Regions from separate parts of the Homo sapiens genome. Here all the other regions are linked to region 3. The links come from fine-mapping of genetic effects on gene expression. A gene starts in region 3. Each other region holds a variant in brackets. All regions are shown on one strand. Distances are between the middles of the regions.

Region 1 (5,631 bases), 360 kb before region 3:
TTAAATATTTAACAATCAACATGGCTTTACCAGTGTGTACCTCTAAATATTAGCCCTGACTGGGGCAGGCACAAAGTCTTGGGGGCATAGAGGAGGAAGTGGTGAACGAAACCTTCTGAACTAAGGAGGTTTCAGAAAGTCTGAGTGGCTGCTCCTCCTTCAAGGGGACACAGGCACTCTGTATCATCCAGATGGTGCTGTGAGCCAGGGAAGGGGGGGGACAATGTGGCTGAGAGCCAACACCCCCTCCTGGAAGGCCCATAGGAAGCTCCCCCACCTCGGAGTCGCTTCAGCCGTTTCTCCTTCCTCTTCTTGCGTACGATGAAGAGCAGTGCCACCCCCAGTGTGGCCAGGATGACAGGGCAGCCGATGGTGAACAGCTTCTTCACATCATCCCCTTCACCTTGAGCAGACTTGATGGGTGGAATGGTGCCTGAATGAGGGCAAAGAATAGAATTAGATGTCCCTTATGAGCCAGGTGCTGTGCAGAACATCTCATGGGTGGGGCAGTCCTCTGACCTCTCTTGCTGCCCTTGGGCTCTGACCTCCACCTCCTGGCACAGAACCCTGGACTTCCCCTCTGCTCCCCAAATTCTGGTCCTATCAGGACAGCCATGAACAGTTGTGTAGTTTTAATATTGCATTTTATTAACAAAGTCCTGGTACTGTTGTAGAATTAGCCTAAAGTCTCCTGGAGTTAGTCTCTCGCCTGTTGAAGTTCAGTGCTCATTCCCAGAGAGTGGATTGATGGGCTTAAATTCTGATATCCAGCTGGGGTGGGGAGAACAAAGGGTGAAGCATGGTAGGGAGAAGTCTGGGCAGTGGACCCTGGGTTCTCTTCCCCAGATGGAGACAAAAACCACTACAAACCCTACATTCTCTCCCTGCTCACCCCTCCTGGGGGCCATATCTGTTAACCTGGGGCTCCTGTGGGGAAGCATGGCAAGTTCTCCTGCTGACATAACCCTCTGCCAAGCCCTGACCCTTGCCTGTTTCAGAGCTTTGCTTAAGAGTCACCTCCTTCATGAAGCCTTCCTTGCTTGAGTCCATCCCCTTTTAATACTGCTTTTATTCTGTTTCCTTAACACATAGGTAGACTTGTGACAATGGGCTTCTATGAATTCAGCCTTCCATGTCCCTTCAATGGATGTGTGTGTGTGTGTATGTGTGTGTATGTGTGCACGTGTGTATGTATCCCCATGTGGCAGATGCAGTTAGGAACTGGTAGTATGCCTTTTCTGTGGATCCTGGAGTCTCCATGTTCAAAAAGATGGTGGCCACTCAACCCTCGCAGGACTCCAAGAGAGCAAGAAACAAATCAGTACAGGGTTAAGCCACCAGGTTTTGGTATTTGCGACTGCAGCATAGGCTGTCCCCTCCTGGCTAATATTCCATATCAGCAGAAAGTTCTTAGAGGTCAGGACCTCAACCACACCTCTACCTCCCTTGTCACCTCCCTGAAACAATGCACAGTGATTGAGGACTGCAGCTTCAAAGACTCTCCATCTTTGGTATTACTGACCTATGTGTCTGTCCATCTGTAGTGGCCATTGGTGCATCTGCCCGCTTACCTGGCTGCAACAAACCTGATGTCCCCTTTGTCAGCCCCTTCACCTGCAGGCCAGCATTTCCCCCACCTGCATTCCTGCCTGTTTTTCTATTAGTCTGTCTCTTTATGTATCTGCCACTCTGCCCACTTCCTTCGCACCACCCTGCTCCAGCCTCTGTACCATCCCTTCCACCCTTGCGACTCACTGCCATCGTAGTCCAGGGTGGCGAACTGGGCTGTTTCATTGCCGCAGCCCGCACTGTTGCAAGCCCTCATGCGCAGCTCGTACCACGTGGCCTCTCGCAGTTCCGTCAGAAACACCTCCCCGGAGCTGTTGGCCCGGAGGCCCTGCCAGGCCCAGGTCCCCTTGGGCCGGTACTCCAGAACGATGGCTGTGATAGGGCAGCCCCCATTGTTCCAGCCCTGCAGGTTAAGCCGAGCATGCGTGGAGTTGATGTGGGTGAAGAGGTGTTGGTCTTTGCTGAAGGAGGGCTCTGGCAGGCCGGAGGGAGAGAGAGAGGTTAGAGAGATTTGGTGGGAGGCAGGACTGGACTGGGCTGGGCTGGAAAGGATTTCCCTGGGGCAGCTGGGATGGCAGTGGCTCCAGGAGAATACATGTTTGGCACAGATGGGGTGGGGAAGCCCCAGGGCGCAGAGGAGGAAGAGGAGGGGAGGGAGGAGAGGGAAGAAAAGGGCAGGGCCTGGAGAGGGGCCTCAGTAGAGGAGGAAGGGAGCTGGGAAGAGGCAAAGGAATGCCACCTTCGGCCACCCGGTGGGGAAGTGGAACTAGTTTTTCCTAATGGGATCCATCGGGACACTGTGGTGACGGGAAGGAGGCTGAGGCTCCTCCCTTCAGTCTCCCTGCATCCCTGGACCCCTCCTTCCCCACCCCAGCCACCTTACACCCCATACCTGGCCCCTCTAGCCCACCCTCCCTGGGCCCATCGCTCCTTCCCTGCCCCAGTGGCCTGGGCCTCACCCCGCCCGTGGGTCTTGGCCTCGATGATCTCGCTGATGCGCCCAGAGCCCACGCTGTTCTTGGCTGCCAGCTTCACCTTGTACCACGTGCCACACTTGAGGCTGTCCAGCTTGAAGGAGCGCTCGCTGGAGCTGATGAACACATCCTTCCACTCCTCGCTGTTGTCCACCGAGTACTGTAGCAC[G/A]AAGCCTGCGGAGGGTAGGCCTGATTCAGGTGGGGGCAGGGCAGGGCAAGGCAGCAGAAGCCCAGCCTCAGGTACCCCAACAGGGGGCTGGGCTCCAGGCAGGGGGCAGAGTCAGGCTTTTGGTCATTGGAACGGGCATATGCTCCTTAGAAGCAAAATTGGAAGGATCAGCCCCAGTCAACTCTCTATGTTAAACCAACCAATCAACAAAACACTGTGAGGGCCTGGGGTCCAGCCCCCGGCGGGTCTGACGCTGTCACTTTGGTTCTAGTGTTAGGGGTTAGCGGCAGGTTCGGGAGGGGAGAAAACCAGAGTTGTGAGGCTCACAAGGGGTCCTGTCTAGATCTTCACTAGGATCTAGACACGGCCCCCTGAGCAGCAGGCTCAGAAGCACCTGGGGCGTGTTAGAAAGGCAGGTCCTCAGCCCCAGCCCAGAGCGCTGAGTCAGAACTGCATTGTTACAAGGCCCCTTGGTGACGCAGACGCACGCCCACACTTGGAAAGCACTGATCTAGTAGTCCATTTGTCTACTTCGACAGATTGGGAAACCCAGACTCAGAGAGGGAAACAGCCTACTCCAGGGTCACACAGCTCACAAGTGGCATTGGAGGGGCGGGCGTACTAAATCCCAGGTGCCTGGGCCATTGCAGTTCCCTTGGCACTTGAGTGACTTCCTTGTGGGTCACTTGGCCCCCAGATCGTTTCTGTCATTTGGAGACAAATGGCAGAAGTGGGTGAAGCCCCTTCCCTGCCCCGGGCCCAGAATTCCTTCCCCTATCTTCCCCCGCATCCAGACCCCTCCTCACCTCGGATGGAGCTGCCCCCATTGTCACCTGGAATCCAGGTCAGGGTGATGGACGAAGCTGAGGTTTTGGAGACAGTGAGGCGGGGCTGGTCCGGGGGAACTGTGAGGGGAAAGCCACCACCCCTTAGCACAAGGGCGGACCCTGTGATGGGGTGTGGGGAGTCCCCCCGTGACGGGAAGGTGCTGGCTCTCCCACACCCTCACTCCCACTCCCACTCCCCAGCTCTCCTGCCTCCCCTTCCATGTGCACCTCTGTTTCTCCAGAGGTCTGTCTCTCCCTTGGTTTGGCTTCTTCCATTCGATGACCCTCTCGCATGATGGAATCCCTACCCTTTCTCCATCCCTGTCCCCACCTGGGGTCACCTGCCTCACAGAGCCTCACCTTGCACCAGAAGGTTGACGATGATGGTGTCAAAGCCACCAGTGTTGGTGGCCGTGCACGTGTAGTAGCCAGAGTCCTCAGCCTTCACTGCACGCAGCAGCAGTGTGCCATTGGTGTGGATGAGCCGGTGCCCATCCATGGACACTGGAATGGCCGAGTCTTCACTGCCAGGGGCGAGGATGGGGCGGGTGGGTCATGTCAAGCACCCCTTCCTCCTGAGGCCCTCCCCCCGGTGTGTGACAAAGAGAGCTGGGGGTGGAAGGAGGCTCGCCAGGGAACGCCGGGTTCTTGGGGCTTTGCTCAGCACTCCCTGGGGGTATGAGGTAACCCAGCCTCTTTAACCATCCGGGGAAGGGAGGTCCTTGGCTCCCAAGAGGGGAGCCAGGAGGCCAGGCCTGCTTGAGAGAGCAGTAGCAGCACACCCTGCAGGGCCTCTGCAGGCCTGGAGGCAACCGGGTCACCAGGCAGGAGGGCCCCAGACTCTTCTCCACACCGCTCTTCTACTATATCCCTCTTTGGGGCCACCCCATCCCTCCACTGTCCCGACACACACCTGTCCTTGGTCCACTTCACAGCAGGGGCTGGATCTCCCACTGAATTGCAAGGCAGCCGAACATCTTTCATCCAAGGTGTTGTCACGGTGCCCCCAAAGGAGATGATCTTTGCTGGGGCTACAGGGAGGAGAGGATGAGGGCCACTCCACTTCTACCCCTGCACAATATCCTGGCCTCCTTCCTTAGGGCCCCCTGGATTTACAGTTCAAATCCTCCCTCCCCGATCTGACCTCCACCTTGGGCTTTTGGTGAGGGGTAGGTGTCAGGGAATATTGGCTGGGAGACATTGACTCAAGAAACATTGATGAAATACCAGTTATGGTCAGGATCACAAGAGGCTCTGAGGATTCAAAAAATGAGTATGATTTATTCCCTGTCCTCACGTTGATCACCATCCAAGAGGGAGACAGATACTTAAGGAAAAATTATAACGGGGCAAAATGCTATGGTAGGTGCAGGCACGAGGAAGCCTAGGGGTGCGAGGCAGGGGGAATGAATGCTGCCCATAAGTGGGCAGTGGAGGCAACGGCCGGGAATAGCATCTGGAATTGGAAGCTCTGACTTGAAGGTTAAGAAAGACTTTATAAGCAGGGAAGGAGACACATGTCAAGAAGAGGGAATAGCACTAAGCACAGACATGGAGACCTGAAGCTCACGGCAGCTGTGAGGGTTTGCAAATACTCTGGGGTAACCAAAGCTTGAGTCCAAGGGGACGGGCAGAAGTAGAATCTTGGGGGCTTTGTTGGCAGGGCCAGGAGACTGGACTCCCTCTTAGAAAGCCGCCACCAGAGGGTTATAAGAAGTGGTGTTGGACAGGCCTGGTGGCTCACGCCTGTAATCCCAGCACTTTGGGAGGCTGTGGCAGGCGGATCACCTGAGGTTGAAGTCAGAAGTTCAAGACCAGCCTGGCCAACATGGCAGAACCCTGTCTCTCTACTAGAAATACAAAAAATTAGCCGGGCACGATGGCAGGTGCCTGTAACCCCAGCTACTCGGGAGGCTGAGGCGAGAGAATCGCTTGAACCTGGGAGGTGGAGGTTGCAGTGAGCCGAGATCATGCCACTGCACTCCACGCTGGGTGACAGAGCAAGACTCTGTCTCAAAAAAAAAAAAAAAAAAAAAAAAAAAGGAGTGGTGTCCTCAGCCGATTTCAGATGCATCCTGGCTGCTTGCAGAGG
Region 2 (5,631 bases), 310 kb before region 3:
TGACACCAGTCCGTGGGTGAGGAGGCGTCTGGGACAGGAGTAGGGTGGATGAAGGGAGGTTTCAGGCTCCCCGAAGTCACACCACACAGCAAGCCACCTCCTCTGCTGCCTTGTCATGCAGGACTTGATGCTGACGACAGCCCTGGCCTCCAGGCCCCCGCACCAGCCTCTCAGCACATTCCCCAGCCCCAGCTCATCAAATAATGAAGCAGATAAATTTTATAATGCACGGCATTACACTAGGATATACAATAAAATGCAAAAGACAAATAACGAGGTGCAAGTTATAATGAAGAAAAAGCCTGCAGTCAGAGACATCCGAGTATGAATTATTGACTAAGGTTTTACACTCTCAAGGATGTGCGGAGGAATATTTTTCCATCAAAGATTTGCATAATTCACTCGTATAAACCTGGGTGGAATATAGAGTAAGATTTTACACCAACAAGTCAGGACTTGCATTGCAGATGCCTCCATTTTTTACTGGAGAATTGAGCTCGGGTGTCGGGGAGGCTCGTAAGCGGACTGGGGACTGGGACCCCCATGGGTCGGGCCCTGAGGCCTCCTTCCTGGGGAGGAATCCTGTTCCTGAGAGGTTGCTGCTGAAGCCACAGAGAAGCAGAGGAACAGTGTGTGTGTGTGTGTGTGTGTGTGTGTGTGTGTGTGTGTGTGTGTGTGTGTGTGTAAGTGGGGCTGGGAGGGTCTTTCTTTGGTAGGAGGACTTCACAGTTCTGCAGCACACCTCTGTTCTGTTCTCCAGGCAGGCCTGCACTAACCCTTCCAGGACCTGTGTGTGAATTACAAAGGCAACCCCACCATGCCTCTGGCTGGGTGCTGCCTGGTGCCGGGAGCCACAGCTTGGCCAATGAAGCAGGGACCATGTTTCAGACCCCATTCACCCCTGAGGCTATGTACTTTTGAGCAGTGCACAACCTGTGTATCCATACATGCCATTCCCACTTCAGGGAACCTGCCTTTCTAGTCAGCTTTGTTCAGCCCTGTGGGCAGCCAGGGACAGCAGGGTCCCCAGGGATCCTTGGCCCCTCAGCCCTTCTGTGTGTGGTAACAACCATACCTGGAGCCTGAGACAGGGTCCCTTCACCCTTCCACCAGCTTAGGATGGCAATGAGCATCACACACCACAACTCTTACAGTCCCCTAGCTCAGGGCTAGTTCAGGGGAGCCCGTTCATGAGGAAGAGGAGAGAAGCTTGAGGGGCTTGGGGCCAGGCCAGCCTGGGATCTGCTTCTGTGGCTGCGAGCTATGTGGCCTTCCACCCCTTAAAGCTAACTTCTGTGAGCCCCACGGAGCATTGTGAGGACAAAGTGAACCCACATATGTAAACTGCCTGCCACACAGCACTTGCTTAAGAAACCTGGATTCTAGTCCTATCCCCAAGGGGTTCCATCAAGACAGGAGCTCTTTTTTATAGAAACGTGTGACGTGCAACATAGATTATTGCCTTTCATTTTGTGTGTCAGGACAAGGGTCTTTTTGGGTAGAGGAAAAAAGCCTAGGTCTGTGGCCTGAAGACAGACTGTGGTACTGAAAGCAAATGTCAGAGAATGTGGTCCTAGGCAAAAGAGGACCTGGCCAGAGTCAACCTCCATTGAAGTGTCAAAAGTGGCTCTTCTTGGCCTGGCCAATGGTTCCTTGTGTCATAGGCTACACCTACTGGTGTCAGCCAGCGCTGGCCGGTCCTAGCTTGATAACCAGAACCCCACTGGGCTGGTATAATTAGCCCCTGAATTCAAAACAACTGGGTGCCAGGTAATAAGGACTACCTCACATGTACAAGTGGCAGGGAAAAGGGTGTGTGGCTTGACATGCATTACCAGACTCCATGGAAAAGGCTCAAAGAAAAAACTAGGTCAGAAGTCATTTTCTTTTCCATCCTCGCCAGCGCAAGTGAATGCAATCAGCCAATTAGCTAAACTGGGTCTGCTGAACTCCCAAAATGGCGGATGGGAAAGTGGCGGATGGGAAAGTGGCGGATGGGAAAGTGGTGGATGGGAAAGTGGCGGATGTGAAAATGGCAGATGTGAAAGTAGTGGATGTGAAAGTAGCGGATGTGAAAATGGCGGATGTGATAATGGCGGATGTGAAAGTGGCTGATGTGAAAATGGCGGATGTGAAAGTGGCGGATGGGAAAGTGGCGGATGTGAAAATGGCGGATGTGAAAGTGGCAGATATGAAAGTAGCGGATGTGAAAATGGTGGATGTGAAAATGGTGGATGTGAAAGGCGCATGTCTCAGGCAAGAAGGAAAGCAGAGACCTGGTGCAGTAAGATGGATGTATATCCTTCCATGGGAATACTGCCAGCTTCCTTCCAGGCCTTGCCCCTAAAAGTTAATCTGGGAAGTGCAAGACTGTATAAGACCCATGTCTGTTACTCCTACAAGTTCAGAAAATACACGTGTACAAGTTA[C/T]TGGCTTCAGGTGTTACTTGCCAGGTGATTCCACAGAATCCTAGCATCCTAGCATTGCAGAGCCCAGATGAAGACCTGTTCTACTGAATTTGTAGCAGCTGCTGGCCACATGGGGCTAATGGGCACTTGAAATACAGCCAGCCCAAATTGGGATGTGTGATAAGTATAAAATACATAGTGGATTTCAAAAATGTAGGAAGAAAAAAAAAAAGAATGTAAAATACCTTTTTTTTTTTTTTTTTTTTTTTTTTTTTTGAGACAGAGTCTTGCTCTTGTTGCCCAGGCTAGAGTGCAGTGGTACAATTTTGGCTCACTGCAACCTCCGCCTCCTGGATTCAAGTGATTCTCCTGCCTCAGTCTCACAAGCAGCTGGGATTACAAGCGCGTACCACTACGCCTGGCTAATTTTTGCATTTTTAGTAGAGACGGGGTTTCACCATATTGGTCAGGCTGGTCTTGAACTCCTGATCTCAGGTGATCCACCCGCCTCAGCCTCCCAAAGTGCTGGGATTACAGGTGTGAGCCACTGCACCTGGCTGTCATTAAGTTTTATATTGACTATCTGTTAATATTTTAGATGTATGGAGTTAAATAGAATATACTATTATAATTAATCTCACCTGTTTTTTATTTTTTTGAACATGTGACAGAGAGGGGATTTCAAATTACATATTATTTGGCTCACGTTATGGTTCTACTGAATGGAACTGGTATAGATCAGTGACACAGACCCTTCCTTTGGCAAATGGAGAAACTGAGGTGATGCAAGGAAGCAATTTGCCCAAGGTCACGTTGCTGGTAAGCAGAAGAGCATCTTAAAAGAGGATGGGTTGCAGAGGGCAGTACTGAACACACAGCGATGCTGTGAAGGGTGGGCGGCCCGGTATCACTGGGAATGCGATTTCTCAGCTCTCTAGGACTCATAATTACAAGCTCAGGTTATCTGTTCCTAACATTAACCAAGAAATATCAGGTCTTGTTCTGGGGACCCTATTTGACGAAGGACATTGACAGGCTGGAGTGTGACCAGTAAGATGGGCCGATTTCAAAGCATGCTGAGAACTGGGAATTAGTAACCCAGGGAGCAAGGGAGAGACACTGCAAGGGGGGAAGGGAAGACCTCCTACTTGGCCTAAGAAGGAATGTTCTAGTATTTTCTGCTGTTTGGGGAAAGGGCCACAGTGGGAAGTGGCAAGCTCCCTGCATTGGAAGTAGACAACCTGTGGCCTCACAGAAAGGAGTCAATTAAGGCCTGGATCTGGGCCCCTTGTCTTTGGGCCCTTGGGGGTGCCCGGGTCTCAGGAGAGGGAAAGACGGTCTGGGAATGTGGCTCACTGTCTGATGAAGTGGTTCTATGAATCAGAGTACTCGTGTCCTTGCAGATGGGCGCTTTCAGCCCCTTGTCCTCAGTAAGAGGCAGGGAATCCTCTTCCCCTCTTCTTCTGCCAACTAACCAGAACAGAGAACTCTGCCACTGTGCCCCTCCATCCGGCCCTGCACCCAGCCTCCAAGGACCACGGTGTCCTCCTGTGCCCACAAATAGGAGCTTTGGCCCTCCTGGCTGCTGTACTGCTGGGCTTAACAAGGCAGCCCCTTAATAGGGGGAAGTTCAGGGCATAGGTGCCTGCCCCATTGATCCTTCACCTTCTTCCACCTCCCCCTTACTTCTTGCTCTGGACTACAAGATCTCTCTGCTTCATTGAGTCGCAGTAATAAACAAGATTGAACTCTCTCTATATGGAGACCAGCTGTACCTCACAGGGCTTTTTGGGTGAAGGCGGCCACCACGAATTCCCTGGGGAGATGGTCATATGCACTCACCAGGAGTACAAATCCTGACATGCACAGACACAGACACACACACACACACCACACACAGAGGGGCAGTGTCAGAAACACACCTCAACAGACAGTCACAAACACAGTCACCCTCACAGCCTATGCTCTGACACCCTTACCATAAACCCATGGACGGCATTACACACACATAACCCGATGCAATGATCAATTGCATGTCAATACCCTGATGTGCTTGTTTAACACACATCTCCCCACACTGCTGTAGTCCATAAGCACAGGCTCTCTCCACACACACACTTGTATAGTTCCCTTTTATTGGGTGCTTACCATGTCCTGGCAGGATTCTAAGTACTTTGCATGAATGAACTCATCTGAGGTAGGCACTGTTATTATGCCCCGGTTCCAAAGCCTGTGTCTCAGTGTATTTCTTGACGAAGCTCCATGGCCTCCCGCATGCCCAGGTTCCCCTGACAAAGCAGGCCCTGAGCTGGATGCCTCTGCCTTTTGGCCTGTTGTTCAGTGGTTCCTCCCAACAGCAACCACGAAAGCAAGTCTTATCATCTCCACTTTTCAAATGAGGAAACTGAGGCTTCCAGAAAGTGTTTCTTCCACCTCTAAGGGGGCTGGCCACCTCTAGCCATCTGTTTGTCTGCCACCCTTGCATACAGTCCCTGGCTTTTGGAAATGGAATTTGGCTGTCACCAAAAAGCTGTGGCCTCTGCGGCGGGGCAGCTGCAGCAGGTACTCCTGGGGCAGGCAGTGGGGACTGCTGCTTTAGGGGTGCAGGCGGGAGAGCCGGGGTGGGGTATATGCACAGGGCTGGGTCCTGCGTGACAAATGCTAATGACAGCCACAAAAGCACCTCACTGCTCTGTAGGGCACAGGAGGCTTTAATGAAATACAACTTCTCTGCTTTCCTGCAATCTAATTCAATTAACAGCCAGGGAAATCTGATTTCTCTTTACAAACGGGTGCAGGGGAGACTTTCTGGGGACTTGAGAGAAGGGAAGGGCTAGGGCTAGGCACAGTGGTGTGGGTGAGCTCCTTCTCAATACACAGCTCCTTCCTATACAGCAGCTTTAGGTGGGGTAGGGTCTTCTCTCTGAGACCCTGGGGGAGTGAAGACCCTGGTGTGAAGACGGCCCATTTCATTCAAGCCTCAGTTACAGTCCCCAGCACCTGCTACAGTGCCTGGCACTGTGATGACCAAATTGGGGCATACTCTGGTGGAGGCCAAGGAGGCTTCCTGATGACTTCCAGGGCTCTTCCCTGACACCCCACATTGCATGCAGGCCTCTCCTGCGGGGCATCCCCTGCATGGCACGTGTCCTCCGGCAGCGTCCTTGCCTCCTTGTGTGTGACTGTGAGACTCTCCAGGGCAGAAGCATCTCTATTCCAGGGC
Region 3 (5,631 bases):
CCGGGGTCTCTCTGCCACTCAGCCCCTCCCCAGTATTCACTGGCCCTTCGCCTGCCTCCCCTAAGTTGCGTTTGCCATTTCAAGATTTTAAAAACACATTTCCCCATTGCCCCCCCCCCCTTTTTTTAATTAGACACTGAACAGAATGTTGGAGATTTTCTTAATGCCCTGACGAAGGCTTTTAATTTGGTCTTCCCAAGAGAGAAGAACCATGAGTCCCCATCGGAGAAGTTGGGGTGGGAAATGAAAAAATCAATGCAATCCATTATTTTGGCTTTTAGAAAACAGGAATTTTAGTGCCGGGGAAGCTTGTTCTTTTACACAGTAAAAATGCAAATGCAGGCAACACAGATGCTGGCACGCTGGATGGAACAACGGAGAGCGCCTCGCCGGGGTTCATCCGGCTGCCTAAACCTGGATTTGTTTTGGCAATAATAAGGCAGTTATTGGAGACTCGATAACCGATGATTAAAACACCTTCCCAGTTTAGTTCTGGGGAATCAGTCTGAGCTCAGGCATCATAAAAAAAAGGTATTTTGAGAGGAATGGAAATAACAGAAGCTTAAAACACATTCAATAACTGCTTAATTCCATCCAAAGGATGCTCCATCTCATCCTGTTTTCTTCTCTCTCTCCCTGCCTCCTCCCGCTCCTCACAGATGGACGTACAAATTATTGCAAGAGGATATTGTTTTCTGTAACAGGCTCGAACATTCACATTTACATTTTCCTTGGTGCCGCGGGGGTGACTGGCAACGGGAGAGAAAATACTCCAAACCCCATCTTTCTTGCTGTCTCCGCATCACATCTTCCCCCAAGCCGCCTCTGCCACCCCCTACCACGCCACCCCAAGCAGAACAGGCCCCAGGGACCAGCCTGGCACCTAAGACCCAATTAAGGCACCAAGGAAAAGAAAAGCCTGTCTGGCGAGGCACCCTGGCGCCCAACAGACAGACGCTGGAGCCTCTGAATCGCAGGGGCACCGGGCTCTGCAGACCCAAAGGCCACCGAGGAGCCGCCACAACTGGCATCTCCAGCCCGCCTACAGGTCCAAGGCCACTGGCAACTTCCATCTCGAGTTGGACAAGATTTTGCCCCTTGGCTGTCCTGTTGCCTTCTGGGCCTTTCTCCACCCCCAACCCCATCTGCTCCCGCCCTATCAAATAGCTCGGCTTCATTTATTAATGCCAGGCTCCTGGAAGGGGGAGGGGAGTGTCCTTCAGGTATTTGCTGAGGGGCCTCCTGCACTCCCCGGGAATGGGCTGTCCTGGAAGATGTCTCCAGAGAGTGTTGTGGAGGCATGGGGGAGTTGGGGACAAAGCCGGGCTAGAGTGTGGCAGCGGCTTCGGCCTGTGCTTTCTCGCCTGACAAATTGCGAAAGGGGATGGGGGTTGGAGAGAGAACTATCGAGAGAGAAAGCCGCTCCTCACCTTATGTATTTTTAATATTAATGTAATTAAAGCTGCGAGCCGAGCCAGCCTGCGGGGGCGGAGGGAGGCAGGAAGAACCTGGGGAGAGGGAGACTGGGGTTCGGGGGTGGGGCTTGAACAGGAGGCAGGCTTCTTGCTCTGCTAAGGTAGGATGAAGGAGTGCGATGCGGGGGGCAAGGGGTTAAACAGCAGAGACCAGCCTTGGTGTGTAACCCGGGGGACCCCACTGGGCCTGAGAAACTCAACTACTTTGTCGACGATTTTTGAGGCCACCCTTCCTTGTCCCGCAATCCGATCGCCTAGTAAATGCCAGCAGTATCTGGGCCTTGAGTCTGGCTTTGACCCGGCAGTATCTACAAATAAGGGTTATCCTCTTTCCCCCAACCCACGATGTATCGCAGTGGGCTCCGGCAGGCTGCAGACTCCAGACCCCTGGAGCACCGGCAGGGCAGGGTTGGACCCCTCCCCGGGTGGCAACCCTCCACTGGAGTGCCCTTCCTCATCGTCTTGGGGTTAAGAGTTGCCGCCCGGCCAGGGCAACAGCCAGGGCAAAGGGAGAGAGAAGCCGCCCCGGGGCGAGAAGGAGAAAAGTTAGAGGGCTGAACAGGTGACGCTGAGCTTGTTGGAGCGTGTGTGCTCCACCACGCAAGGGCGCGGAGTTCGGCCGCCTCATCTCCCGCCATCTGCGCGCCCGGGGGCACGTCCTCTGCGATAGCCTGGAACCCAGACTACCTGCGCCTGCCTGGTCCCGACTCAGTGCCCAGGTGGCTTCAGTCGGAAATGTCTGCCCTCTTCCAACCTCCCGATCCCGGCTGCCTCGCGGATCAGGTACGCAGCGCCCCAGCCGCAGGTCTGGACATGCCGGACACCTGGACCCACCCCTAGCAACCCCCTCTCTCCGGGAAGAGGGACACGCCCCCCAGCCTGAAGACTTGTCCCCAGGTCCAACTGGCCAGGCGCGGAAGCGGAGAATCTCGCATCTTGGGGCGCGCTGCCCGAGGTGGCCACGGTGGCGCACCAAGCCGGGGCTAAAGCCGGGGCAGAGGGGTGGGGTAGGGCCGGGGGAGGGTGACCTCTGGGTTTGGAGAACAAACTTGCTATCCGAGGGACCTCCAGCTCTCGGGACTCTCACTATCCCCACCCTGCCTCCAGCCAATGCGCGGATAAGCGCCATGCGGTGCGCCAACATTCGCGCCAGGGCTGGGGTCCGCGGCGGGAGAGGGACGCACGGACATAGCGGAGGAATCAGCCGCCGAGTCCGAGGCCTGAATAAGCAAGGACTCCTAGGTCAAGAGTCACGGCCTGAGGACCCCTCGACTCGGAGGGCACTCCGGGGTCCCAGTGCCACCAAGCCGCAGGAAGAGGGCAAGGGGCTGGGGGAGGGGTCCAGGGCAGAACTGCCGCCGTGCAGGGAGCAGGGAGATGAGGGGCTCCTTTGCCACCACCCCTACGGGCGCGCCCCAAAACGGCAGACGCGGGTGGCTGGCGGAGCGGTCGGGGGCTGACTCTCACTCGGCCCCTGTCAGGGTGCCTGCCCCTCCCCGCTGCGCCCCACCCGGGGCCTTGCACCCCGGTCGGTTCCCCCACGCACCTGGAGCCCGCCGGGCACCCCGCCTCGCCGCCAGCCGCGCCACCCTGGCCCCGCCGCCTCCGCCGCCCAGCCGCCCGCGCAGGTCTCACCTTTGTGTAAAGAGTCCAGGAGCAGGAGGAAAGTTACCAGCCACATGCCATAAAGAGGCCCTATTCTCCGGGGAGGTGGTCCTGTGGCCGGCCGTGCGGCAGCGCCTCTCCCCCGCTCAGCGCGCTCCCAGCCGCCCGCACTCGGCGCCCCGCTCTCTCTGCTCCTCAGCCCAGCGCTCGGCTGCGGCGGCGGCTCCTCCCTCCTCGGCTCCCCGGCTCCTGTCATCCGCGGGGCTGGGCTAGGCGGCCGCTCTCCCCGCCCCCCCGCGGCACCCCGGGTGGTGAGCGCCGCGCGAGCCCGGAGCCCAGACGGACCCCAGCCCCACAAGCCCAGGAACAGGAGCGGCGGCCCGGGCCAGACCGCCCCGACCCGGCTCCGCTGTCTGAGAGGCGAGGGGTCCCTGTCACCCACCGGCTTGGAGCCTGTGGTCGCAGACAGGCATGTGTCATCCATGTGCCAACAGCCTGCCATGCTTCAGCCAAGGACGCCCGGTTTCTACTGGCCTAAGTCACCTGGGACACGAGCTTCCTGCCTCTTTCGGACTCAGCTTACCCGGCCCCCCCACCCTCCCCAGGAGGAGCATGGACGCTCTGGGTAGAATCCCAGGCTTTTCAGTGCTGTCTGGTGCTACTCCCCACCCCAAAGTTCATAGCTGCCCTTCCAACCCCTCGTGACTTCCGCAAGCCTGCCCTCCGGAGAACCCCAGATGAGTCCAGCCACCCCCTGGCACGCTGTTCGAATTTTCCTCAGCACTTGGCACATTGTGACTATTTAAACGGTTATTCACAATGAGCAGTTTAATGTCTACGCTACCTGTGTTATCTTCCTCCTTTGTCTTCACCTACCCACCCCTATAGCTTTCCTGCCTGACAGAAATTGGCTTATTCCTTACACTCATCTTTATGAAGTTGGCATAGAATAGGACTGGAGTGAGGGCGTCTTCTCAGTGACCAAATGAATGTTGAGCACCTGCTGTGTCAGGCACTGGCTCAGGCACTGGGGACTCAGGCATGGCTGAGCCAGGTCTGCTGTAAAAGGTCAATATGGTTGGAAAGCCCTCCTTTCGTCTTAATTCCAAAATAAGAGGATACATAGAACCCAGAGAAGGGATCCAGGTATCCCTGAGAATGGCCTATGAGCCAGGACTGTAGCTCCCTTTGCAGGGTCATGGAAGCTGCTTTGAGTATGCCCTGACAATTGGGCTGTACCTGGGCAGACTCTAAGGTGTGGAGTGCGAAGTTTGGAGGGAGAGAAGGGGTCCACTGGCTAGCTGCATTTGCCAGAGGAAGAAAATTTACTTCCTCGAAATGTGCGGCCTAAGTTCACATGGGAGAATTGGGACTCCTCACTCCCAGGTTTTGCCAAAATATCCCTAGAAATTTTAACTAAATTTTGAAAAGTGTGTTTTTTAATATGTTAAAATGTACATAACATAAAATTTACCATTTCAACCATTTGAAGTGTACTATTCTGTGGCATTAAATACATTCACGATGTGCAACCATCATCACTTACCATTTCCAAAACTTTTTCATCATCCCAAACAGAATCCTGCACCCATTAAATAATAACTCCCCCTTCCCCTCCCCTCCCCCAGCTCCTGGCAACCACTATTCTACTTTGTCTCTATGAAGTTGCTTATTCTAGGTACCTCATAAGTGAGATCATAAAGTATGTATCCTTTTGTGCTTGGCTTACTTCACTCAGCATAATGTTTTCAAGGTTCGTCCTTTAAACGGGTGAGAAAATCGGGGCTTAACTTGTTCAAGGCCACCAAGGTTGTATCAGAAGCAAGACTAGAACCCAGGCCTCCCGACTCCAGAGCAGAGCTTGCTCTATAAGCTGCAGCATCCCTCGGTGGCTCAGCTCTTCATGCAAAATCACCACCCTGAAACAATTTGCAGGAGGTGTTTTGTCATCTGGAAACACAGGCATAGAACAGAGACGGGGGGACAGACTGCAGGGGGTGTTTGAGATGACCCAGACCGATCTTTTGCTTTACAGATAAGGAAACTGAGGCCCAGAGTGGGGAAGCCATGAGCCTTCCCCGAGGTCACGCAGGGAGTGACAGAGCCCTCACGTTTCCAGTCTTCTGTCTTAGCTCCCATCTCTCACCGCCCTCAGCCTGCTGGCTTATTCTTCTACCATGCCCCCTCCCTTCTAAAGGGAACGGTCATTGAGAGGAATCCAGTTATTTAAAACTAAGCCTATTGACCCAGAGCACCTGGTCAGGTCATGCCTAAAATAAACCGCTAAGGCAGACAGGATGAAAGGGGCTGCTGTCTGCTGGGAGGGGATCTGAGTGGGCCTGGGGTAGCGGCACAGCTGCTCCGTGCCTCACACGCTGGAAGTAGCGGTGGACCCTCTTCTTTGCATCCACCCCAAGTACCTCCTACAACCTGAGTGTAGGAGGCTTTATGCTAGTTATACACAGGGGGCTTTAAAGAACCACAACATGTGTGTTACCCGAAGGGCGAGGTCATTCATTGTGCCGGTGACTGCAGTCTGGCTGTCCCGGGA

Direction of the effects. Alleles are on the strand shown, and positions count from the first base shown. SD is a standard deviation of normalised expression in the study named. Not every link is listed here.
For the expression in thyroid of the gene that starts at base 3,293 in region 3, G is the low allele of the variant in region 1 and A is the other (small effect, 0.30 SD a copy in GTEx).

Evidence for each region. PIP is the estimated chance that this variant, and not a neighbour inherited with it, causes the effect.
Region 1: its variant is the best candidate, but not a certain one, in a credible set for the expression of DSCAML1 in thyroid (GTEx, PIP 0.88).
Region 2: its variant is the best candidate, but not a certain one, in a credible set for the expression of DSCAML1 in tibial nerve (GTEx, PIP 0.54).

What each region holds. Positions count from the first base shown.
Region 1 is chr11:117,435,367-117,440,997 of GRCh38, forward strand. DSCAML1 (DS cell adhesion molecule like 1) reads right to left here. Exons shown (of 33, transcript NM_020693.4): 22 at 4,453-4,570; 23 at 3,900-4,063; 24 at 3,519-3,617; 25 at 2,529-2,717; 26 at 1,756-2,043; 27 at 278-433. Among named protein-coding and RNA genes, the nearest start is that of CEP164, 110 kb to the left of the region's middle. RefSeq lists enhancers at 9-58, 2,343-3,317. The variant G/A (reference allele first, on the strand shown) is at 2,713.
Region 2 is chr11:117,484,258-117,489,888 of GRCh38, forward strand. The region is part of intron 11 of DSCAML1 (DS cell adhesion molecule like 1); the gene reads right to left. Among named protein-coding and RNA genes, the nearest start is that of CEP164, 160 kb to the left of the region's middle. The variant C/T (reference allele first, on the strand shown) is at 2,430.
Region 3 is chr11:117,793,924-117,799,554 of GRCh38, forward strand. It overlaps DSCAML1 (DS cell adhesion molecule like 1), which reads right to left and starts at 3,293. Exons shown (of 33, transcript NM_020693.4): 1 at 3,111-3,293. The coding sequence starts at 3,156.